3 separate regions of the Homo sapiens genome follow, and all the other regions are linked to region 2. Evidence: fine-mapped expression QTL. A gene starts in region 2. Each other region holds a variant in brackets. All regions are shown on one strand. Distances are from middle to middle.

What was found. PIP is the estimated chance that this variant, and not a neighbour inherited with it, causes the effect.
Region 1: its variant is fine-mapped to the expression of GCNT4 in whole blood (TOPMed, PIP 0.93).
Region 3: its variant is fine-mapped to the expression of GCNT4 in lung (TOPMed, PIP above 0.99).

Annotation. Positions count from the first base shown.
Region 1 is chr5:75,020,326-75,028,510 of GRCh38, forward strand. It overlaps GCNT4 (glucosaminyl (N-acetyl) transferase 4), which reads right to left. Exons shown (of 4, transcript NM_001366737.1): 4 at 5,021-8,185. Among named protein-coding and RNA genes, the nearest start is that of GCNT4, 28 kb to the right of the region's middle. The variant C/A (reference allele first, on the strand shown) is at 3,595.
Region 2 is chr5:75,048,381-75,056,565 of GRCh38, forward strand. GCNT4 (glucosaminyl (N-acetyl) transferase 4) reads right to left here and starts at 4,178. Exons shown (of 4, transcript NM_001366737.1): 1 at 4,049-4,178; 2 at 3,789-3,847. RefSeq lists silencers at 4,425-4,674, 4,895-4,944, 5,065-5,434 and an enhancer at 7,280-7,870.
Region 3 is chr5:74,944,531-74,952,715 of GRCh38, forward strand. It overlaps LOC105379040 (a long non-coding RNA gene), which reads left to right and starts at 3,637. Exons shown (of 2, transcript XR_948485.3): 1 at 3,637-3,860. The variant T/C (reference allele first, on the strand shown) is at 3,906.

The DNA.
Region 1 (8,185 bases), 28 kb before region 2:
TAATGCTGGGGACCCCTGTAAGGGAGAGCCAGTTGCTTCGAAGGCAGACAGAGGGGGAGCCAGGAACTGGCTTGTGCCCAGAGGGAAAGAGTTAGGCTGCTGACCCTGTGGCTGGCCTTGCAGGCCAGGGAGTGCAGCTGCAAGCATGGGAGTGGCAGGAGCCACAGAGCCAGAGCAGACAGGTGGACAGTGTAAGAGAGCTGCTGATGAGAGAGCTGCTGAATAAAATTACATTTCACCTACTTACAGCCCCCCGAGTGTTCTTTCAGCTATTCGCCCATCCACCCACTTGCCTCAGACCTCAGCTGAGGCTGGAATCTAACCCCAAGCAGGACATTTGGCATAGTCGTGGCCGTGGACCTGACACTGTTGAAATATTAGGTCAGAACACAGAATATTGCCAATAGTTGACCACTTCTGACCTACAAAAACAGCAGTTTCATATGGTTCAATCTATTATTAACAAGTAAAATAATTTGATATCTAGAATTATTTTAAAATATTTCTGTGGGAAAATGGGGTGAAGGGGTGGATAGATGAAATAGGATTGTCAAAATATTGACAATAGTGGGTCTGAGTGATGAGGATGTTGGGATTCATCATGCTCTTCTCTCTCTCTGTTTGTGTTTGCTTGAAACTTTCCATAAGTTTTGTTTGGTATTCCACTGTGTATTATGACTACAAGGTAGTTTTTATGACCATAAGTGAACTTTAATTTAATTTTGTGTAAACACACAAAAAGGAGAGATTGAATTGGGCTGTGTAAATGAACCTAAGGGCAGGTGGAGCTGGTGTCACCAATGATTGATTGACTGCCTTGAACATCTCGAGGACCCCCTCTGTCATTGTCTTTCTCTTCCCTGTTCCTTTTGGAACATTAATTCGCTGATACAAACTTGTCCAAGTAGTGGGGTGTGGACACAGAGAGAGCTGTGCTGGGCTAGCAAGCCCACATCCTTATGTTTTGTGATTAAAAAAGAAAAAGGAACAAGAGGTTCTTATTCTCTGGCAGGAATTTAACAAGTCCCAAGAGCCCTGATTAGCCCCGTTTAGATCAGGCGCCCACTCCTTAGACCAATTAGTGTGGCCTTGGCTGTGAGAGGCTGTAATTGGCCCAGCTTGGGTCACGTGACCACCTCAGTAGCCAGGAGGGCTCTTTGTGCTCTGAAGATTCTGGGATGGAAGAAGGGCTGAGTAGACAGAAACACTAGCCACCCTTATAAGGTTTCTGGTTCTTTGCACTAGCTATTAGATTACAAGCAGTCTGATCACAGATCATGTCTTTTTCCTTACCAGTTAATTATTTGTTTCCCCAGTTTTTATTTCAAAGTTTAAAGACCTGGTTGCAAGGCTTGTTGCAAAACAGAATCAGCATTCCCCCTTTCCTTTCCTTGGAGGTGACTAGTAACTCTCTGAAGTGGTTCTTTTGGTTTTGCTTCCACAAATTGGAGTGACATCTTTCTATTCCTCTATTTGGTTTTTCAGTTACAGGCATTGTCTACCTAGTCCGATCATTGAGATGATTTTGATGTCTTTCACACCCACCCACACTCCTACCCAACATATTCATCCTTTCTATCCCCTCATGTTGCCTGTAAATTATATCAGTAGCATTGATTAGGTCAATATTTAACATTTACACGATCCTGAGTATGTAAACTCTATCTCTAGCCAAGCTACACCTGCACCACTTTGTATTCTCCTTAGAGTTCATAATTTTTTTCCCATGGAAATTTTTTCTTAGCTGGGTAGAGGCCATCTCACTAGCATACATCTTTGTTTTATAGAATTACACATACGTCTGAACTCGAGATTTCACCCCCATGATTTCAGGTTACTCACACCCTCCAAAATTCATTTGTTTTTCATTGTATTTTATAAAATAGTTACAAGTATGGCAGCCATGCGGTTGAAAACAATTTTAGGAGGACCTATAGTTACAGAAATGCATCAAATTTGGTCATTATTTTAAAAATATAGATAGCTACCTCTTCAACAATGTAGAGAAAGCATATAAAACAGCATATAAAATATTTCTGAACTTTTAACTATAGTGTCTTAGGATCAAGAGGTATGTATGCTTATTGCAAAATTTGGTGGTTTCTAAATATTAAAATCAGCCTAATGCTTGCAATGTTGAAATAATGTTCAGGAAAGATATCCTAACAGTGGTTCTCAAAGCATAGTTTAGAACAGCATCAATCTCACTTAGGAACTTGTTAGAAATGCAAATCTCCCTCCCCTTTAATGAGAAAGAGGGAAAGGCGGGGAGCAATCTGTGTTTTAGAAGGCCTCCAGATGATTCTGATGCAGACTGGAGTTTGAAAACCAGTGTCCTAGACAAACATTGTGTAAGTTAGGGATCATGTCCAGCTGTTAGTAATAGAGACTTGAGATGACAGTGGCTTAAAGCACATACCAAGTTTTTCCTTACATAAAAGGAGACTGCAGGTAGGTAGTCTTGGATGATTCAGATGTCATATTTTCACTCTGTCCCTGCCATATAACTCCCATCCTCATGGTTTTAAAATGGTTGCTGAAATTTCAGCTATAACAAACATTCTAGGCACAGGAAAAAGCAAGAGAGATGGGGAGAAGGCAAGCTAGGTAAATTACCTTCCAAGCGCACTCTCAGATGTCCCACCCAGTGACTTAGGCTTTAAACTCATTTGCCCACCACCCCATAGTTGAAAGGGAAGCTGGGAATTAACAGCTGGTCACATTGTTGCTCAGAATATAACCAGGGATGCCAGAAAGAATGGATATTAGAAGGAACTAGCAACTTCTAGATCCTTCCTGGAATGGAGTCAGTCATCAAAGTTAAGCCTTTAAGAACATTATTCTGAAATAGCTCTTTACTACCCATGCATTAAAACACCATCTTTTATCTGCTAGAGGAAAAACTACTTCCTTGTTTTAGGCAAAAGTCTTGGCTTACTTTGAGAATCTGAAGAGCCATTTATCAGAATAAATGAATACAATTTCACATAAGTAGAGGCTGTAGTTGTATACATCAACCAAGCATCCTGCACAGTTTCTGAGAAGTTGATTTATAACAAACATACATGAAAAACAATCAATTAAAAACTCCATTCTCTTCAGGATTATAATTTCTCTCATGGAAATGCATCATAAGGAAGTAATTCAAGGAGAAGCTGTACGAACAACACTGTTCATAGCACTGTTATTTATGACAGCAAAAAAAAAAAGTAGTTTACAATTCAAATGTCCTACAGTAAAGTAGAGGCTGAGTGAATTGTGGTATGACCATTACATAGCCATAAAGACCATGTAGCAACATGGCAGAGTGATTGTAAAAATATTGGCAGTGCGGGCAAATGTCAAAACACGTGTATGTAGATAAGAGCATTCAGAGAACTATAATGCTTTTGTCAGGATGTTAGAATTATGAATATACGTGGTTTCTGTTTAATTTCCTTTATTGTTCTATGAGAAACAACAAAGAACAAAACAAGAAACAAGAAGAACAAAAAAATAAATTTACCCAGGTTCCTGGCCATGATTTTCCCTGAGATTCTTTTCTGGCTGTTTGTCTTATGCATGATTCAACCGAGGGTGCTCCAGGAGGGCGTG[C/A]TTTGCTGCTCTGTGGGAAGGTTGTATGTAAGGCCCGATGAAGAGTCTTCCTGTGGCTTTGGTGTGTCCACGTGGGTTAACACCCTGATCATCTGTCTCTGAAGCCGTTTGTTTTGCATCACCAGATTTTTTTTCCAGTACTGAGAACAAATTTACAATCATCTATTCATTCTCTCTTGCCACAGTTTCCTCATAATCAGTTTCATGTAACTAGAAGCCAATTGTCCCAATTTAGGTGTAGATTTGTAGGTGCCAATGGGAACAAAAAAATATGAAACTTATGTAGGAATCAAATCAGTCTTTAATATGATGCTGTGTATAGACCTGCCTCACCACCACTGGCACCAAAAAATAGTCCCCTGTTCCTGAAATTACTGTGAATTTGCACAGTTGTCCAGCTTGGTAAGAGCTAGAATTAACCTTAGGTTGAGTATAGTGTTTATTTTTTTAGGTTGAAGATTCCCCAAATGCCCCAAATTCCTTGAGATGGATTGAGATTTGTGAGTGAAATATGCAAACCCCTGGCATATCTACATACTGGGTAGGCTGGTGACTGTTATGGGTTTAGAAATGGTGAAAGAAAAATGGCCAGGGAGCTTCTCAGCGGGTGGGGGTTGATGATAACAAATACTCAGCTCAGTAGAGCTGGGAGAACAGAGCAGAAGCTCATCAGGAATCCTCCACCAGCAAGGCCTGGGGACACTGGGGGTGTCTGCGTGCTCACAACCAAGGCAGGAGTCCTTCAAAGAAAGGGAAGAATCTTGGCTGGGTGCCTTGGCTTATGCCTGTAATCCCAGCACTTTGGGAGGATCACGAGGTCAGGAGTTTGAGACCAGCCTGGCCAACATAGTGAAACCCTGTCTCTACTAAAAATACAAAAAATTAGTTGGGCATGGTGGCGGGCACCTGTAATCCCAGTTACTTGGGAGGCTGAGGCAGGAGAATTGCTTGATCCCGGGAGGCGGAGGTTGCAGTGAGCCGAGATCGCACCACTGCACTCTAGTCTGGGTGACAGTGCGAGACTCCATCTCAAAAAAAAAAAAAAAAAAAAAAAAGGTAGAAAGGGAAGAATATTGATTTTCCAGGAAGTGAGGGACCTGAGATAAAAAGTTCAACCTACCCTATTGAAAACTACTTCCATAAAGTAATCAAGCAAACAAGAGTATTTATCTTATTAATCTTACAGGAGAAACCAACCTGAAGTAGGAGGAAGACAGGTAAATCCTGGAAGACTCTTTGAGACTTTACCAAATTAAATGGCTTAAGTTCATGTGCCTATATTGTGTATAATACACATGCTGAATTTCTTTTACACTGAAGTGAAATAAACTCTGCTCTTTAAATAAGGGGCAAGTGCCATAAACTGAAAGAATCTTTGTGGGGAATCAGCAAAACCAGAGAAAGGAAAGCTCATAAAGTCCAAGGGTTTGGGTTTTTGGAGCACATTTTATTTTACAATACCAGAGAATCAACATCTAGTAGTAGCATAATACAAAATGAAACACCAATCTATTTAAAACTCATGTAATGGGAACTGTATTTCAAAAATGATAAGAAAACAAAATAGGAGATTTAGAGACCAGTCGATATAAATGTATAAAAAGCCCCCAAAACTCTCATTTCATCATCAGTGCAAACAAAAATCATTTATAATAACATACATATGAATACATTCACTTACACTCACAAAGTGGATTATCATTTTTATTTTCCATGAAATATGTCAAAATATATGCAAGTATATCTTCACATTCTGATGGGCAAGATAAATCTTCAAATTAAAATATGTACATTTCACTTAAATTAACCAAAATATTAAAAATAGCAGCAACACTGGTCTTTAAACACGTCTAATATCCCAAGAGATTGTTCACACAATATAGACTATTTTGGTAGCTCTTTCATTATTAATATTATTTAATATCCACATACAGTTTAGAAACTCTAAGGTTCTGGTCTGATCTCTGAATAACTTAAAGTCTAGATTCAATAAATACAAAGAATAATTATAAAACACAGACTGCAGGACATTATCAAGACCAGGGAGGAAATCATACCCAAAGGTTTTAGGGAAGAATCAGATATGAAGGCGTACAGGAAATCTGTAGGATTTCCAAGGCAAAAAGGTGTGATCTGACAAGCTCCCTGATATGTTAACAGACTGAGTCCAGAGAAATGTGTGAATGTCTCGAAGGCACTTTCTCCGCTTCATCCTTCCATGTTCCCTTTGAATACGGCATTTAAGTGATGAACAACTTTGGAAATTTCCCAATAAACAGGGGATAGAATCATTTCTCACCAGGAGGCAAGACAGTGGATCAGGAGGTTATTTGTTTTTCAGCATTTACGTTTATTCTGATGAGCAAAGGCATAAAAACCAAGATTTCAACAGGATTTCGTGTATTTCATCCTAGATGGTGGGAAAAGTATTTGTAGCCCCATTCTCAATGTGTCACTGTACCAACCTGTAACCCTATTGGCTTAGAAAGAAACCCCAAATGGGGTTACAGGAGTTTCCTCAGATCTGGATTTGGTTACAGAAGTTGCCCCTGTGACTGGGGACTCTCTTTATATTTCAATAGTTTTTCAGAAAAGGTAAATGTTTAAGCCTTTCGATGGGGTTGGACCTTTGCCTATACTACTACAGGTATCACTCTCTGACATTGAAATGTCAATAGTTTGTACCTATTTTCAAACCACTTCATATACTATTTCAATCGATTCTCACAAAAAAAAAAAAAAAAAAAAAAAAACACTTGTGTGGAAGCAAGGATAGGCATCCAAGTGCTCATTTCAAAGATCTGGAAAACTGAGGTTCATAGAGACCAAAGTGACTTACCTGTCCACAGTCGCACACGAGTGAACTGGTATGGATCTTTTGCAGAACTTGGCTCTATACAATGTTTACTTATTTTGAAGAATGGGGCTTGGTAATAGTTATTTCCAAAGAATGAAGTAATTTGAAGGGGGTAAATAAAAAGGGAGAAAAATGAGTTCAAGAGAAGAAAGGGAGCGAGAAGTGGTGTCAGTTGGCAGTTAGTATTATGAACTTTAAAATGAGCAAAGTGCATTTCACATTTAGAACACAGACATTTAAAAAATATGTAATACTTAAATCTTCCAAATTGTCCTATTTTGGGCTAGATTTACTACATCTTTAAATATAATATCTGAGGCTACATTTTTATTTACTGAGGCTGCCATTGAGACATATCATGACCAAGAAATTTTTACATGAGTTCTACAATTTCCCAAGAGACTGGTGAAAATGTTATTGCCTATTCTCAGAACCCCATTCCTACCCCATTTTACTTCCAGAACAATTCCATTATATATATAATATATATTCATTATATGTTATATAATATATATTTATATATATATAATTATATGTATATATAATATATATTCATATACAATATATGTATATATAATATATATATTTATATATTATATATGTAATGGAATTGTTCTATATATAATATATAACATAAATATATATTACATATATATAAAATATATATTATATATATATATTTTTGACTCATTGGGTGGTTTTCTCAAGTGTGGGTTTTAGAAAATATCCTTAATGAATATTCTTGCTGTGTCCTTAGGAAAATTAGCTTTTTTCTCTCTGGAACTAAGCTGAGAAAAAGACTGCAAGAAACTTAGAGCTTTTATCACTTTAAATCTGGATTCCAGTTGGACAGTTGCCAGAGAAGAAAAAATTTTAAATGACTATACAAATTAATTTAGAAAGCTGTCATATTTCACACAACCTTTTGAAGAAAGTTTAGTGACTCTTAGCTTGATAGTTCCATACAACAGAATTATAATGATTCCACAGAAAGTATTCCATTGTAAAGAAACTTATCTAGAATGATAACTTATGAATTGAGGACTTAGGCTTAATGTTCTGGTGTGTGACACTTGGAGCTATTGGTCAGTTCTTATTTTTAATCAGTAAATGCATTTTAAAGAAACAGTTGAACTAAAAAGGAGGCCATTCATGATACTGTTTTGTAACATGATAAAAATGTTGTATAAATCCCTTCGCTCCTCTTTAGGTACTACCTGTCCCAACCCACATCCTCACCCCCTTCCTTAACTTTCATACATTATAAATGCCCCCCAACAGTCTCCTCAACCCTGAATTGACCAAGTAATGCACCAAAAGGCAGATTATGCTTTGGCAAGCAGGAAATTGGACTATTCTTTGAGATTTTTCTGAGGTAGTGAGTCTTTCCTCCTCTGCTCTGATGGTTAAGAAATGTCTTGAAAGCTGAGTTAAGAGACAAGTGGAGTGTTGGTCACAGTACTTAAACACTACTCTGAAATGGGTGGTTTATATGATCAGACGATTACCACAAACTTCAAAAGCTTCTTCAGTAGAATCCTGACTGTTATGTGGAGAACTTAAAGATACCGAGGTTGCTATGATGAGGATAAGCCGCAGTCTCTAAAAAAGTGCCTGTCATATAGTTAGGTGCTCAATAATGTTTGATGACTGACTGAATGTTTAAGATCTCTGATTTGGCTCAGTGAGATTACAAGCAAAAACAAATATTAAAAAAACCTAGCCAACTGCAGG
Region 2 (8,185 bases):
ACTGTATTCGTTAATTGAGAACCCTGGTTCATGGAGAATTGTGGTTCGTGGAGAAACGTGGTTTGACAAGAGCATCTCTAGAGGACAGTTCAGTGTTTTGGCTGACCATACATTTGGCACGAGTCACAGTTTAGTTCGAGACTGTCAAAAGAAAGCAAAATGCAGCAAAACAAAAACAAAACCAAAACCATCGTGCTCCTGGACAGCATGCGAACCACAAAGCTGCAGAATGCGAAAGCTGAATGCAGGCTGCAAATCCTTGTTTCTATGAATAGTACCACCCAAAAAGGAAAGCATTTCCACAGTTTAGACCTTGGGACTAAGGAAGGGACCAACCCACTCTGCTCTGTACTGAGCAGACACCCTGAGAAATGAGTTCATGTCTGGCTACATCCCTCTGCTGGGTAGTAACTGATAGAAGTTAAGCAGCCCAGTGAGAAGCTAGTGACCACAAGACGGACCTGGAAAGGTTAAAGCTGAAGAAGTAATGACTCAATAGAGGAGTGAAAGCTGGCTCTAAATATTTAAAGAACTTATTAAAACACAAATTGCTGAGCCTCACGGGTTCCCAGGCGATGCTGATGTAACTGGTCCTGAGGCCACACTTTGAGAACCGCTGCTCTAAGTAACAAAATTGTAGTTTGTTTTTGTAATACTCTGTAGTTCTAAGATTCCACTAAGACCCGATGGCCTGTTTCTCAGTAAATCCACATTGGGAAGAATTTACTGGTTTTGAAGCCTCACACATTTGTGATTAAGATTGTTCTTTTTAACATTTCATATCGCTTAGCAGAAATTCAATCTTTCCTTTCTGCCCCTTAGTGTTTCTTATTAGTTCAGCTTCATAAAGCAGACTTCTGTTTCTGCTTCATTTTCTGGCATCTTATATGGTAGACATTTTTCCTCTGGTCTTCTTCCACTTTGCCTGTATTTTTCTGTTACGTTCAGCAGATCAAACTTCATAACATATTAAGTTGTGAGCTACCTTTATCAAATGATATCTGGCTCCCCACATCTAAAATAGTAAATACTGATCCAATCCTGTCTCCAAATGCCCACACTGAGCCCACCATCCCCAGAGATCTATTAGGATGGAAACGGCTGCATTCAATTCCTGATTAATTTTCTTTTCTCTTATATACTTGAAGCTTCAGTCTTTAGATCCCACTAGGAAAATTACAAGCATATGGGAATGCATATAAATGACATGCAAAGTAATGCAAATTAATACAAAACATACATCTCTAAATTGCTTGAGAAAAGTCTGTAAGCCTCAATGTTGATGTTATCTGCTTTGCTTCACTACACTCTGGCAAGCAGTGACTGGATCCCTTTATTACAGTTAATTTTATACAGCATCGAGCACCTGACACTTGTTGACACATTAAGTAGAAGGTGCCTTGCCTTGTGAGTCAGGCAAATCGGATCCTGGCCTTAACTTTGCCATTCCTTGGCTGTATGGGCTTGGACAGGTTCTCAACATTCTCTACGTTTCAGATTCTACAACCAGAAATGATAGAAATGGCATCATGATAATAAAACCACCAGCACTAAGGTTTACTGAGCACTTTATGTGCTTGCATAATGCACACAGGCAATCCTTACAACAGCCCACAAGGAGGTGCTGTAGAGCACGTACCCCTTAGGTGTGGTGCCGTTTCAGAGACCAGGAAACTGAGACAGGAATGTCAGGAAGCTTGGGCCTGGTCCTAAGCTAGGCAGTGACAAGAGTCAGACCCAGGAGCTCAGCAGTCTCACTGCGAGGCCTTGCTCTTAGCCATGCTGCATCTCTGTTGCGTGATTATCATCCATGTTTCTCCTAAACATTACATTTGTATGATCTGTGAAGTAAATCACTCGCAGTCACACGTGCTTTAAAACACTGTTTCTGTAAGATGTTGACAGTTTACATTACATGAGCTTGATATCAAAATACCATCGCAATCCAAGGGGGAGGGGATCCAGACATCCTGTGTGTTCAGCTTCTCCTTCCAACTCGCTCCATCGCATTCACATATGTCTAAGGCTCCCTCATCTTAAAGTACCTAGCCCTCCGTCCCACCTCTCACTCTGGGAGCAGCTTCCAGTCCTCAGACACCACCGCCTCGCCCCACCCCATCCACCCCAGGATTCAGACCACACCCCTCGTACAGAGGACCACCATCTGTGGAGAGTCAGCCAGCGAGTGCACTATGTGGCCACTAGGGAAGCCATTCCACTTAGGAGCCTCGAAAGCTGCCCAGACCCAATAAAACCAAACTTGTCTTTCCTCCTCCAATGTTCCCTGTTTCCGTAAATACCAGCACCCAAGCTTAGAGGGAGTCACGCTGCACTCTCACACCCTACACAAAACTCATCTGCTCTCACACCCTACACAAAACTCAGCCCCAGGTCTCTCCAGAGCCGGCCTTGAATCCGCCCAACGTGTCATCCCTACTGGCACTACCTCAGTCTCAACTGCCAGGCCTCCTGCACCCTCTGACCCAGCCCTGTCTACTTAGGGGCTCCTCAAGTCCATTCTCCACGGGGCAGCTGGAGTTTTGTTTTGCTTTTAATCCATATCTCATCTGCGTACTATCAGGTGTGAAACTGTCCTGAGGATCCACTCGCCACAATGCCCCTTGGCATCACCTGGCAGTGGTATCTGCTGGCCTCCCCGGTGCCATTCTCCATCCTCCCCTCAGGTCATACTGAACCTGTCTTTTCTTCCACCTCTCAGGCTCTCCTCTCCTCTGGTCTCAGCACACACCATTCCCGGGGATGGGAATACTCCCCTTTCTCACCTCTCCCCTCCCCCATGGCTGCTTAGTTTACACAGCTCCCACTCATCCTTGAGCCCACCTTCAGTCTCCCCAGCAAGGCCTCCTGCCTCAGCACAGATGCAGTGAGCTGCAGCACATCTGCGCCTCACAGCAGCCAATGCGCTGTTCACATTGGGACAGTTCACAGCCTGGTTCACAGCCAGTGCTCAACACAGGTGGCCTGAAGAACTCACTTTTCAGCCTTGCTTTGCTCATTTTTACTGTCTCACTGCTTTCTTCCCGCCTTGTAGCCTAAGAAGGAAATCCCCTGAAGCTGACTCCGTTTTACCTCTCCTATGTGGTGCTGTGATAAGCCCCAGGTCACCAGGTCATGCTCCCAGCACCCGTGGGTCAAGGATGAGGCAGAAACAGCACCGTCAGGTACAGGGCCCTCTACCTGCTCTCTCTCCCTCTCCCTTCCTAGAAAACAACCATAGGTCATTCAAAGTCAGTTTGGGAAGCACCTGTATTTATGGCCTGCTTATCTTGAAGGCACTTGGCCAGGTGCCATAAAGTGCTAACTCTGACTGCCCGACTATGCCATTCACCCCACCTACCTCTGTGCAGGAGATGTGACATTTAGCAAATCAGTATAAACTTTTTCCCCCAAAGAAAAGAGTATAAACCTTCTCATCCCACCACCACCCCGCAGCAGGAAACTCCTTTCAGTCTCCCCATAGAAAATTCAGCGGCCACACAGTTCCTTGGCTATTGTTTCTCTCCTGATACCAGAAAGAGATAAATCAACAACACATCTTAACTGGTCATTTCTCACACAAAATTGGATCCTTAGAAAGTGCAACATAGGATATGCTCTCTATAATGATTCACTTTTTCACTTTTAAAGATTTTACTTCCTTAAGAGACTATCAACAAAAGCTGTCAGAATGAACTGTTAGTTTCTAGAATGTTTTAGGCTTATTGATGCTTTAATAGGGACATGTTTTATGAATGCAAGATCAAAAAGGGCGACTTCTGTCTACTCACATGAGACAATTAAACGCATTATATTAGCCCCAACTCTGTTAATCTTCTGGTTTGTTGTTCTTCCATTTTTAAAGACAAAAAAAAAAAAAAAAAGAAAAAGAAAAAAATGAATTTAAAAAGTGCCCCAAGGCCAATATCGCCTCTCTGCCTGCCCAACGAGGGGACAATACACTGTTTCCCAGACTACGTGACTCGGAAAACTTCCCCGTCAGGGAAAGCTGAGTCTTTAAATTTACAAAACACCCACTCGCCCCGTTTACCTAGCACCGTTTCCTACGTGAAGACTGCAAATGGACTCGAGCGTCCCGTTTCTCGGCTCGGATCCCAGAAGCTCCCGACCCGCTGTGGTAGGCACCGCCACCTCGCAGGCAGACGATCCCGGCCCGCTCTGCGGCACAAAAAACTTGACCTTAAAAAGCCCAGAAACTGGTCTCTGGGAAGGGCGCGGCCTGGGAGGCGCGGCCCGCAGCTTCCGCCCCCAAAGAACAACTCGGAGGCCCCCTCCAGCCCCGGTTGCCCTGGCGCAGAAGCCGCGGTAGCAGTCCTTTCAGGCGCCCCGCGTCCCTGTCCCGAAGCCCAGGGGCGGGGGCTCGGGCAGCATCGCTTGTCCCCTCTGGTCCAGGGCTGCGGAGAAGCGGCAAGCGGCTCCGAAAGGCAAGCGTCACGAAGCCGGGCTCAGTAGCTCCCCCGGGCCCCCTGCGCCTCGCAGCGGCGCGGGCCAGGCTGGGCGGCGCTGGGCTCTGAAGGGCCAGGACGGCGGGATGCCCCTGCTCCCGGCAAGGGCGCGCCCACGAGCCGCTTCTTGGCACTTGGGGAGAGTCCCGGGAAAGCCCGGCGCCGGCGCGCTCGCGACTCCAGCCTGGCGGCTCCACTCCGCCCGCGAGCCCAGGAAGCCGGCTCCGCGGCCCGCGCCCGTTATCCAGGACACGCTCCGCGCCCGCCGCCCGCTGCCCTTTCCCCCCGCTGGCCTCGGGGAACTTCCCCGCGTCTGGCCGCAGGCGGCGGCTGCCGCGGGGAGCCCCGAAGTTGCGGCGTCTGCTAGGCGCGCGCCGGGTCGCCCACCCGGCCCGTGACGCTGTGTCCGTCCGCCGCGCGCTCTGGTGGCCCCGGGGCTCCTGCAGGCGCGGAGAGAGGCCGGGGTTCAGCCCGGTTCCCCGCGCGGCTCCGAGAGGGCGCCCCCGCCTGCCGCCTGGAGATGGACGCGGCGCCGAAGTTTTCCCCGGCGGGAAAACGAAAGTCGTGAGGAGCAGAGGGTCGGGGCGTCCCGGCGGAGACGAGGCTGAGACCGGGTTAACATCTCCAGCCCCGGGCGACCCTCGCTCCCCCGCGTGGCCAAGTCGACTTACGAGAGGGAGCGGGCCAGCCCCGAACGCGGGGTCCGTGCGGCTGCGGAGGCCGCCCCGGCGGGGGCCGAGGGTTGCGCTCTGGGTTCCCAGGCTCTCCGCGGCGGCTCGCTCTCGCCGCGCTCCTCCGTCGCCCTGCTGGGGAGCCGCTCTCGCCCGGCCCGGGGTGGGAGAGCGCTGAGCGGCCCCCGTGACGTGCGGAGAAAGTAGGAGCGCCTCCGCGCTCCCGCAGAGGGAGCTCCCTGCCCTGCGCTCCCAGTCCCCGGGCCGCGCTTCGGACAAAGTTCTCAGGCGCGCGCGGTGATCTCGGCTCTCCGCCGCTGCCCGGAGCGTCATCCACGTTCGGTTCCCTCCCACATTAGACAAGAAATCTGAGGTCAGGAGAGCTAAGTAACTTGCCCAAAGTCGCTCACAAGGCAGTGACGAAGCAAACTCACATCCGCGGCTCCTTTTTTCTCCTTGAACGCCGGGCTCTGCGGAGGCTCAGGCCCTGCAGGAATCGCCCAACCAGACAGAAGGCAGCTCGCTCTCATGGGTGAGACGAGGAGTGTCCCACGCAGCCGCGAGAAATATTATCAGCAGCGTGGGAAGGTGGAGCTTTTTGCCGAATAACTAGAGTGCAAAGTTGTTTTTCAAACAGTGCCTACATGCCAAATCGGCTTGCTTTTTATCCTCAAGCGAGAGTGAGGGTGGCGGCTGTGCGGACGCCAATCGGGATCACCGAATAAGTGCAGTGGAAAGAAAGCACACAGCCACTTAACCAATTGGCCGACATCAAGGACTTGGCCTTCCGAGCGGGTTCTTGTGAATATGCTAACTTTGTAAAGCGGGCGCACCACGCTGTGCTTGCTATTCACGCACTTCCAGGAGTCTCCCGCGAGGCTCCACGTCCTTTCGGGGCCGGGGGCTCCCAGGGCTTGCCTTTCAGGGCAGGGAGTGGCACCAGACAAGTCAATCCCAGTCGGTTTGTTCCTTTATCCCTTGCGTCAATCAGTGTTGACTGAGGGCCTGCAATGTGCATGGCTGTTGGGTGGGGAGCTGGGTAGGACCTAGGACCTAGGACCCAGTGAATCTCAAAGAGGGAGGGTCACATGGGTCCCCATATGCTTCACTCCCAGAATCTGGAATCTGCCCAAAGCAGTAGAGAGACTTTAAGTCTACCCCAGCCCCCACGCCTTTTTAAAAACTCCCTGTGTTCGGAGAGCAAGTGTTTTAATATTCGTTTTACAGACGTACTTTCAAGCAAATGGCCAGCTTTGCCTTCATTTTCTCCCCATGGGACCGCCTCTTTCTGGAATAATAATTTACACTTCCTGGGTCTCCCTCATTTGCACATGATGATGGCGATAGTCATGATGGTAAAAACAATTAAGGCTTCTATTATCCACCCTGGGCACTGTTCTAAGCAATTTATGCGGATTAACTCTTTCAATCCTCACAACTTTATGAGGGAGGTGCTATTTTAATTCTGATTTTACCGATGATGAGAGGGAGGCAGGTGAGGTGACATAACTTGCCAGTAAGTGGGTGGTCTGAATGGTGTCCATGCTCTTAACCACTGAGGTCTCCAAGACTGGAATTTAAAGGGACCACTAGCCATCATTAACCACAGCTTACACATCTCAAACAAGCCATGCTAGGAAATACATGCACTTCCTCCTAAAGAGGTCAATTTTATTATTTTGCGTGTATCATGTCATAAAGTGGATATCCATTCACTCACTTGCTCCTCTATTTCCAACTTCCAAATCAACTATTTTGTCCTAAAGCAAACTATTTCTTAAAAACCTATTCATCATAAAGTTTCCAATTTTTGTTTTGGATTGTTTTATTCTCAGACCATACCCAGCTGTTTCCCTCTCCTTTCTACTCACTGCCTTAAGTTACGCTTTTTTTTTTTTTTTTTTTTTTTTTTTTTTGTGAGACGGAGTCTTGCTCTGTCTCCCAGGCTGGAGTAAGGTGGTGCAATCTCGGCTCACTGCAACCTCCGCTCCTGGGTTCAAGCGATTCTCCTGCCTGAACCTCCTGAGTAGCTGGGACCACAGGCGCACACCAGCACGCCCAGCTCATTTTTGTATTTTTGGTGGAGACGGGTTTCACCATATTGGCCAGCCTGGTCTCAAACTCCTGACCTGGTGATCTGCCTGCCTCGCTTCCCAAAGAGCTGGGATTACAGATGTGAGCCACTGCGCTTGGCCAGGTTACTCTCTTTCATCCCTTAAAAACTTGTTGTAACCGGCCCTGCAGGTCTTCTGAAAGTGGGTTGCCCAAAGATGGTAGTGGCCCCAGAATGGTCTCTGCCACATTGTAAGCATGCTCATTGTGCTCAGCATTCCTGTGTTATTCTCCTAGGACTGCCTAACAAATACCACTGACTGCACAACTTAAAACAACAGAAATGTATTTCCTCATAGCTCTGGAGGCTGGAAGCCTGAAATCAATGTGTTAGCAAGGCTGGGATCCCACTGTGCCCCCTCCTAGCTTCTGGTGATTGCTGATAATTCCTGGCATTCCTTGGCTTGCAGATGCATCATTCCAGTCTCTGGCCTTTTCCTGTGTGTCCTCTGCAAACACATTTCCCTCTTCTTTAAGGATATTGGTCATTGGACATAGGGCCCACCCTAATCTAGTATGACCTCATTTTAACTTGATTACTTGGCAAAAACCCTATTTCCAAATAAGGTCACTTTCACAGGTTCCAGGTGGACATGAATTTTCAGAGAATGCTGTTTAACCTGGTGCAGTCTCCAAAAGTCATTGTTAATAAAAACATATTGCCTGAGCTAAGGATGCAAAGAGGTGTAAGTCACAGCCCCTGCCCTCCAAGAAACTCTAGTTACAGAAGTAGTCCTTGCACTGAGAACATAAAGACAGGCGTCACTAAGAGCCAACTAACTGAAGCCAAATGAAAATCTAGGGACCAAATGGCAGCTGTACACAAGGAATTCAGCCAAAGGGGCACATTCACTGAGGATACGGCTGCAAGACTTCACTCAAAGGTGAGGGTGATTCAAACACATCTGTGAGGGAAAAATTGAAAAAGCAAAGAGAAAT
Region 3 (8,185 bases), 100 kb before region 2:
GGGAAAGTGAAGGAAGATGGGAGAAGGTCAGAGGGAATTTTTTGCTCTTCTAGGGATGGAAAAATTCCACTTCCACCCTCTTAGGGTCTTGGCTGGGTCTGAGAATTAAATTAACATAATATAGATTAACAGGTGAAAAACATACAAATTTATTTAATACAAGTTTTACATGGCAGGGGAGCCCTCATGCATAAATGAAGACCCAAAGAAGCAGTTAGAGTGAGTTACTTATATACTGAATTGGACAAGGAATTACAAGTTGTGAAGAAGCAACTAACTTGTGTGGAGAGGCTTTAAAAGATAAGAGTGATTCTATCAAAGTCTACAGTATTCTCTTGGTTTTAACTTTTCATCCCTGAAGATAAGGATGCTGTCTTTCCTCCTAGTACAGGGAGAGTGTCTTCCACACTGGAATTTCATCTTCTGCTCTTAAGAAACAGCATGAAGGTCAAAGTGATCTTCTGGCATCTGCTGTTTTTCAGGTGTTTTTAGCTTAAACAGTTAACATGCCAGAATATCATATTTGAACACCTTAACTTCTGAGGCCCTTCCATCCTCCTTCAGTCCAAAGTACCCACTATGCCAAAGTACCAAATTTTGGGGTATCACGCTCTGAGCTCTAATACCTCTTAATTAAATATAGTGATGGTCATTTTAAAACATACTATTTTTATACAAAAATATGTAGGTATTAGAAAATATACACTTTAAAAAATTACTTGCAATTCCACTTTCCAGAAAGGATAGAATTTGCATTTTGGTGATTATATTTTCAGAATGTTTTCTATATGGGGCTTTGAGGCAGAGAAAAGAAATGAAGTGGCAGAGAGGATATCAAATATTGTGATATTTTGAGAAATCCTTTGAGGAATTTTTACAGATATATATATATAAATATTTGACAATTCCAAATTATTTCAGAGTAATTGATAAATCCAAAAATTTGCACAAGAAAGAGTAAGACCTAGAAGATGATGAAAACATCACAGAGAAGGAGTGGGGGTAGATACCAGTCATGAGAGGTGATCTATTTGTAAGTCACAAAACTAATACTGTTGTCTTGACTGGTATTGAAAATTCAACAAAAGAGGAGGAGGAGGTGGAGACATAAAATGAGAACTATCAGAGTGTAATTTTGAAACTTGTTTCAAGTGTGTGGGCAGGCAGTGGTCGGGGAGGGCGCTCTGGTATATCAGTGCACTCCATACTTGAGTTGAGGTTAAAAAATGCATGCATATCACAATAGCAGATTGAAACCTTATACACTGAGCCCTTGGAGAGCAGAACAAAGAGGAAGTGGAGAAAGGATTCCACCACCAGGTGATAATACTCACCGGTCCAAAGGGAAATAAGAGAGGGAAAAATCATTGCATTCAATCAAAACCTTATGCTCTGATGCCAAACTTACACTGCCCAGCTAATGGAAGTGGTTTGACCCATTGACCTGCAGGGTACAACATTAATACTTTAAAGACTCATCACATGTCCTCTTGAGAAAAGAGTGCACTCCTTCCAGGATGCTTCTGACACTTCACTCCCCGTTCCAGTAGCAGCTGAAAGATTATGCCTCTTTTGACTGGGTTTCCTTGTAACCCTGACTAAAAACTACCTTAGGCTTGAGGGGTTGGATGGACTATCTCCCTGGGTCAAGCCGGGAGTCAGAGGTTCTTAGTGAATTCAACTGAGATTAAATTTTGCTATGTAATTAAATCACAGCAAAAACTACAATGATATGGAGGAGAGAAGACAGCCTGTGGTTTGGAACATAACTCAGTCTGCTATTAAAATGCATAGGGTGTCTATAGCTAACAACAGTGTACTGTATATTTCTAAATAGCTAGAAGAGAAGAGTTGAAATGTTCCCAATACAAAGAAATAATAAATGTTTGAGGTGATGGATACCCTAATACCCTGATTTGATCATTACACATCATATGCATGTTCAAAATATTACATATGCCCCATAAATATCTACAAATATTATTTATCAATAAAAAATGTATGCATAAAATGAGCAGGGCATGAGTATAATGTACTGTTCTGGATGACTTGAAGAAATACTGCCATTGAACACAAAAACACATTTGCTAGAGTGCAAAGGTCAGGGTGAGAATGAGTCATTGAGTCCTGGAGACCTCAGGGCCATTAGCTGTAGTCAAATATCAGCCCTGCCAATCATTACTAATTGATGACCTAGGATTCTGCTCAGAGTCCCCTACTAAATGCTAGCCATGTGTCAGCCATCATGCTACCCAAGAGAGTCGTTTGGTGGACGTATTGAGAGATCTGCGTGCCTGAGCCAATGTGAGAACAAGATGGCAAAGTTCACACACGTAAGTGTAAAATTCATCACTGCACTGTAGGTGAACTCAGGTTTGGTCTTTTAAAGTCATTCATCAAAAAAGAAAAGGCAAATGCAAAGGTATTGTCTTCATAATTTTTCCTCATCACTTGAGAGCACAGACTGGGAAAATGAGGCTCCAAGAATGCCCAAATATGTTGTTAGTGCTACATGGAATTTCAAAGAATAGGGTATGGATCCACTTGGAGAGATCAGACATGATTTAAACATCTAAAGAACAAGTCATGGCAATATAGACCTTATATTCAGGGCTTTTCACCTATATCTTCTTTCTATTAACTAGTAGTGTGCTACAGGGGAGCCCAGGGCAGCTGCCTTTTAAGCCGCAAATCTATCTGTTCTCCTTAACTTCTCTCTGGGTAGGGGCACAGAGTCTCAGTCCTCACCACACCTCCAATTCCAAGGAGTAATCTGGAATTGCAGAAGCATTCAGTTATTTCTTTCCCTTGCATCAAAAACATTCAGGTGAATCTGAGTCTAGAGAGAGGAGCACATCCTAAGTGTAAATGGCTCCTTTCAAACCTTTTAGAGTCTTTCTTTTCCTTCTTCCCTCTCTCTCCTACGTTTACCCATCCTGAGGTCCTTCCTCAGGAGCACTCTCCGAAAAGGGCCTAAGATTTGCTGCTGTGTTCCAATTCTGGTCAAATCTCTATTTGGTACTTTAATGGGTTAGAGAATTTGAAAGATCAGGGGAAATCCTAAACTGGACAGAACCTAGATGTTTACAAGAGCCTCTCCCTTGGTCTTAGAGTGAAAATGACATTTATTTGATTGAGTCCCTGTGGTGTTGCAAAGCTTTGCATGTAGGGGATGTAAACTTTTTCTGTTTCACTGATGATTTTAGTCGTATAATAATAAAATCCCCACTCCCTCCAAGACAACCTTTCTCCTCTCCTGCTTCTTGATGAAAGTCTATTCTTGGATTAATGTCAGCTGTTTATCCAAAGCTGGGCTGACAAGCTTCAAAGACATTTTAGTAATAACCCCATTGCTGTTTCTACCACTTACTTATCACTGTGATATGAGAACACAGAACTAGGAATTTTGGGTGCTCCTAGCCCCCAACAAGGTGAAATCTGGTTCCCGAGAGAGGAGAGTAGGCTGTCAGCTAAATTGCACACAGAGCATCTTGCCTGCAAGAGCTTCTGAATGCTCTGAAAACTCTCTGGTCTTATGATGCCTCTACTCTGCAAAAGGATCATTGCTGAGGTCAAATGACTCTCTCTGTCATCACTCAGTAACTGAACAGCTACACCAGATATAGAATCCTGCCTAGTACTCCTGTCTCTCAGGCAGGACCGTAAAACACTGCAAACAGGAGGAAGCAGGAAGAAGTCACCCATGAAGTCCTTGCCCCTGATAAAAAACAAAACTCATCCGGCCTCTGAAGTCATAATAGTTCTTGCAGCTTGGAGTGTGCCGCCATCCTCCCCAAACACATCTCGACTCTGAAAGTGACCCTATGAAGGCTATGACTGCTAAGCAGCAGGCAGAACAGGTGGGTGCATTTGCTATGTTGAACAGCAGCATTCCGGGAGGATAA[T/C]GTAAATTCTACTTAAGCCAAACTGCTACTGGGGGCTGGGCTCAAGTCATGCCCTCAGGTTGCAGAAAGGGGATGATGGATGCTGGCCTTGCAGTTCTCTGCGCTTGCTGGATGATACATGGAGCAGTGGTGTTGGCCTCTGAGGGTGGCTGCCCAGTCGTTGGCTGGAGCAGGGGTACAAAGCAGCACAGCACAGTGTTGGCTAAGGTTCCGCAGTAAGACTACCTGAGTTCCAGTCCCATTAGGCTTGCTACCATTTAGCTATGAGAATTTACTTCACTTCTTTCTGTCTCCATTTCTTTATCTGTAAAATGCAGATGATAATAGCACTTACCTCATAGGGTCCATCGTTAGGATTAAGTGAGCTAATGTGAGTAAAGTACTCAGTACCTGGCGTATAGTAAGAACTAAACTTCACTATAATATATCACTCCATGGGCTAATAGGTCACTTTTAAAAATTACAGTTTTAGGCCGGGTGCAGTGGGTCACACCTGTAATCCTAGCACTCTGGGAGGCCGAGGCGGGTGGATCACCTGAGGTCAGGAGTTCAAAACCAGCCTGGCCAAAATGGTGAAACCCCATCTCTACTAAAAATACAAAAAAATTAGCTGGACATGGTGGCATGTGCCTGCAGTCCCAGCTACTCAAGAGGCTGAGGCAGGAGAATTGCTTGAACCCGGGAGGCGGAGGTTGCAGTGAGCCGAGATCACGCCACTGCACTCCAGCCTGGGTGACAGAGCGAGACTCCATCTCAAAAAAAGAGAAAAAAAAACAAACGTGGTTATAAATAGCCATGTGCTGGTAAATGTTTAACAACCAGCTCTTTAGGAAAAAAGCTCTGACTTGTAATGTTTACTGATTTTCATGGTTTAAATATTTCCACCATGATTAATTACAAGCCACCAACGTGACAGCATTGGATGCAGAGCCGGGAGGAAGTGCTCACAGTCAGCTCCCAAGAGCCAGCATACCACAGTTATGAAGCCCAGCTGGTAAAATGAAAGATGTGAAAAAATAAGAATAAAATTTGAAATATAAAATTATCACCAACTATGTAAAAAAAAATTGTGTGCACAGAAAAAAAAGAAAGGAAATTTACTGGATACTGACTGTAGTTGTATTAGAAGAGTGGTAGGAATGTAATTAACTCTTTAATAGATATATTTTTGTTTTCCTTAAAGTGCTTATGTTAATTTTATAGTGGAAAAATGAGCAGAGTTAACTACATACGTACACACACACACACTTTATATTATGGAAAATTTCAAACATATGGACTAATAGTATAATTTAAGTACTCATTAGTGGCTCCAAAAATTATCAATGTTTTGCCAATCTTCTTTCATTTCAATTAAATAAAATTTCTTTCATTGTATTTATCTCAGAGACCATGTCATTTCACCTGAAATAGCCCAATATATATTTTAAAAACATAACTACCACATCATCATCAACATTTAACAAAAATCCTAATAATTCCTCAATATCATCTGACACCTAGTCCATATTCAAGTTTCCCCAATGGAGAAAGATGGCTTTTACAGTTTGTTTCCTTGAACGAGGGTTCAAACATGGCACTGTGTTATTACTTTAAATCTTTTTTTATTCCATAATGGTTATCCTCTCTTTCTCTTTCATGCCAGCAATTTCTTGAAGAAGCTGATCATTTGTCCTGTGGAATGTCCCATGTTCCAATTTTGGCTAATTGCTTCCTTATGGTTGCTTGTTTCTCTAGTCCCCACATTTCCTGTGGCCGCTGGTTGGACTAAGAGAGTGATCCAGGCAAGAGTTTTCACGGGTGGTGCCAGATACTTCCTCCTGTGTCATATTCTGACACATTTAATGCCCGGCTGTGCCACTTTTAGTGACGCTAAGATTGCATCTAAGTGTAATACATTTAGGAACAAAATTAAATAGGGGGAAATACTTGGAACAACAGAAATGCCAGACACAGAAGAAACTGATTTCAGCAAAACATGAGACAGGGTTTTCTCTGAATTCCTTTGGCCCTCCTGAGGGCTTCACATCCCCATCCTTGGTCACTACAAAGCCTTGGAATGCCTCTACCTGGACCTGTACCTCCAATCATCCTTCGCACTGCAGCCACCAAAGTTCTAAAGTGCAAATCAGACCACTTCACCATCCTGGTTTAACTTTTCCAGTGGCTTTCTGTGGTCTGCTGGAAAAATGTAAATTTCTTTAGTTCATCACTTAAGCACCCTCATGATCTAGCCCGTGCCTACCTTCCCTACCTTCTCACCCATAATTCTCTTTCTCTCTTCCTATATATCATGCTTCTCACCAATGCTCCAACCACACTCAGCTCCATGTAGTTCTATTTTTATTTTATGTTTCATAGAGGCAGGGGTCTCACTATGTTGCCCAGGCTGGTCTCAAACTCCTTGACTCAAACAGTCCTCCCACTGGGGCCTCCCAAACTGCTGGGATTGCAGGTGTGAGCCACCTTACCCAGCCCATGTAGCTCTCTTGATATGATGCTCCTTCACAACTCTGGGTCTTGGATTGGTTATCCTCCTGCCTAAAATGTCTTTCCTTTCGTCTGCTTGGCAGTTTTCCACCCATCTTTCAAGACTGCTGAGCCAGCCATTTTTGACCTCCCTAGTCTAGTGTGAATGCCTGTCCTCTGTTTCTTCATGGGTCCTCATGAGTACCTCAACTTATTCCATCATTCCATCCCAGTGGGCTTTACTGGGCTTGGCACACTGCAGGTGCCCAGTGATCATCTGTTGAATGAAAGAATTTAAAATGAAGCACTGTAGAAAGGATGAAAAAAGTGCTGGGTGAATTTGCCATTGGCTGAACAAGCACACCCAAAAGATTGCTAAGTGCTGAGTATGCTGAGTGACCACATCTGTACCAGAGCACCCTCACTGTCTTTATTTCTGCTCTGCTCAACATTTTCATCCCTTTAGGAGCTTGAGTTTGCTTGAATTGCAAACATAAGCAAAACCTACCTTGAGCTATTTCCTTTAGGTGCCTATATTAAAGAAAAACACAATGTAAGCTCAACCAATCAGAAGCAGCCAATGAACTTATATAACTAAACTTTCCAACAAGATAGACCGAATAAAGCAACTGCATAACTGTAACCAATAAAATATCTTTTTTGCTTTACTTCTGTGCTTGTCCTCTAAAAGCCTCCCCATTGTGTTCTCTTGGTGGATCTCCCCAACCACCTCTGGTTTGGAACTGCCTGACTTGCAAACTGTAGCTTGCTCAAATGAACTCTTTAAAATTTCACTGTGCTTCAGTTTATTTGTTAACAATAGTATCCACCACAAACTTTGTTTTGAGGATTAAATGAATTAATATACATAAAGTGCTTAGAACACTGCCTAGAACATAGTTCTATTCAAAAGCTTGTTATTAATATTCTGCATAGGTCTTCACCTCTCTACTTGTTAGCTGGCTCTGCATACTTTGTGTTTAAGTTTTGTTTTATCCACAGCACATCTGGCATAAAGCTTTAGAGGATGAATGAATCTTATAGAAGCACTTGGGAGATTGTTCAGGGTGGTAGTAAAGAGGATGAACTTTGGAGCCTGGCTGCCCAGGTTCCCACCCTGGCTGCCCCTCTGACCACTGAGTAACCTTCACCACACAGATGGAAGCCTTCTGTAGCTGTTTCCTTGTCTGTAAAATGACAGTAGTCCTGGGTCTGTTGTGACATTTACATGAGATCATTCATGTAAAGCTCCCAGCATAAAGGCTGGCAAATGGGAATGGCTCACTAAATGTGATTTCCTATTAGTAAGTATTTTCCTTCCTTGGGAATTTGCATTTTAACATGAACTAAGGAGGGGGCCTATTTGAAGGCAAGCCAGCATTTTGGACCTATCCCAATAATCAGTAATCTTATTTTTTTTCATTCTATCTTGACTATCACATCAATCCTGTTTATACTTGCACAAATAAAGTGGTTGGAATCCTGCCTGTTCACCAGAATGAATGACATGAATGACTTCTATTTCTGTCATTGGCTGTATTCAGCATAGCCCCTCTCGTTAACTCAAAGTAAAAAAAAAAAAAAAAAAAAAAAAAAAGCAACCAAATCATTCAGGTTCAAGGGGATGGGAACAATCCAGGGACTCAGAACAAACGTGATTCTTCAGCAGCCCACTAATCAGCCAAGGCGGGTGAGACTTCCCAAAGGGCTGTGACTTCACAGCCAGGGGCCTCAGGCTAAAACTGTCCCTAATGGAAATCAAATAAAAATTCAGGGATTGCTTCAACAACCCAGCACTGGACTTCAGCTGA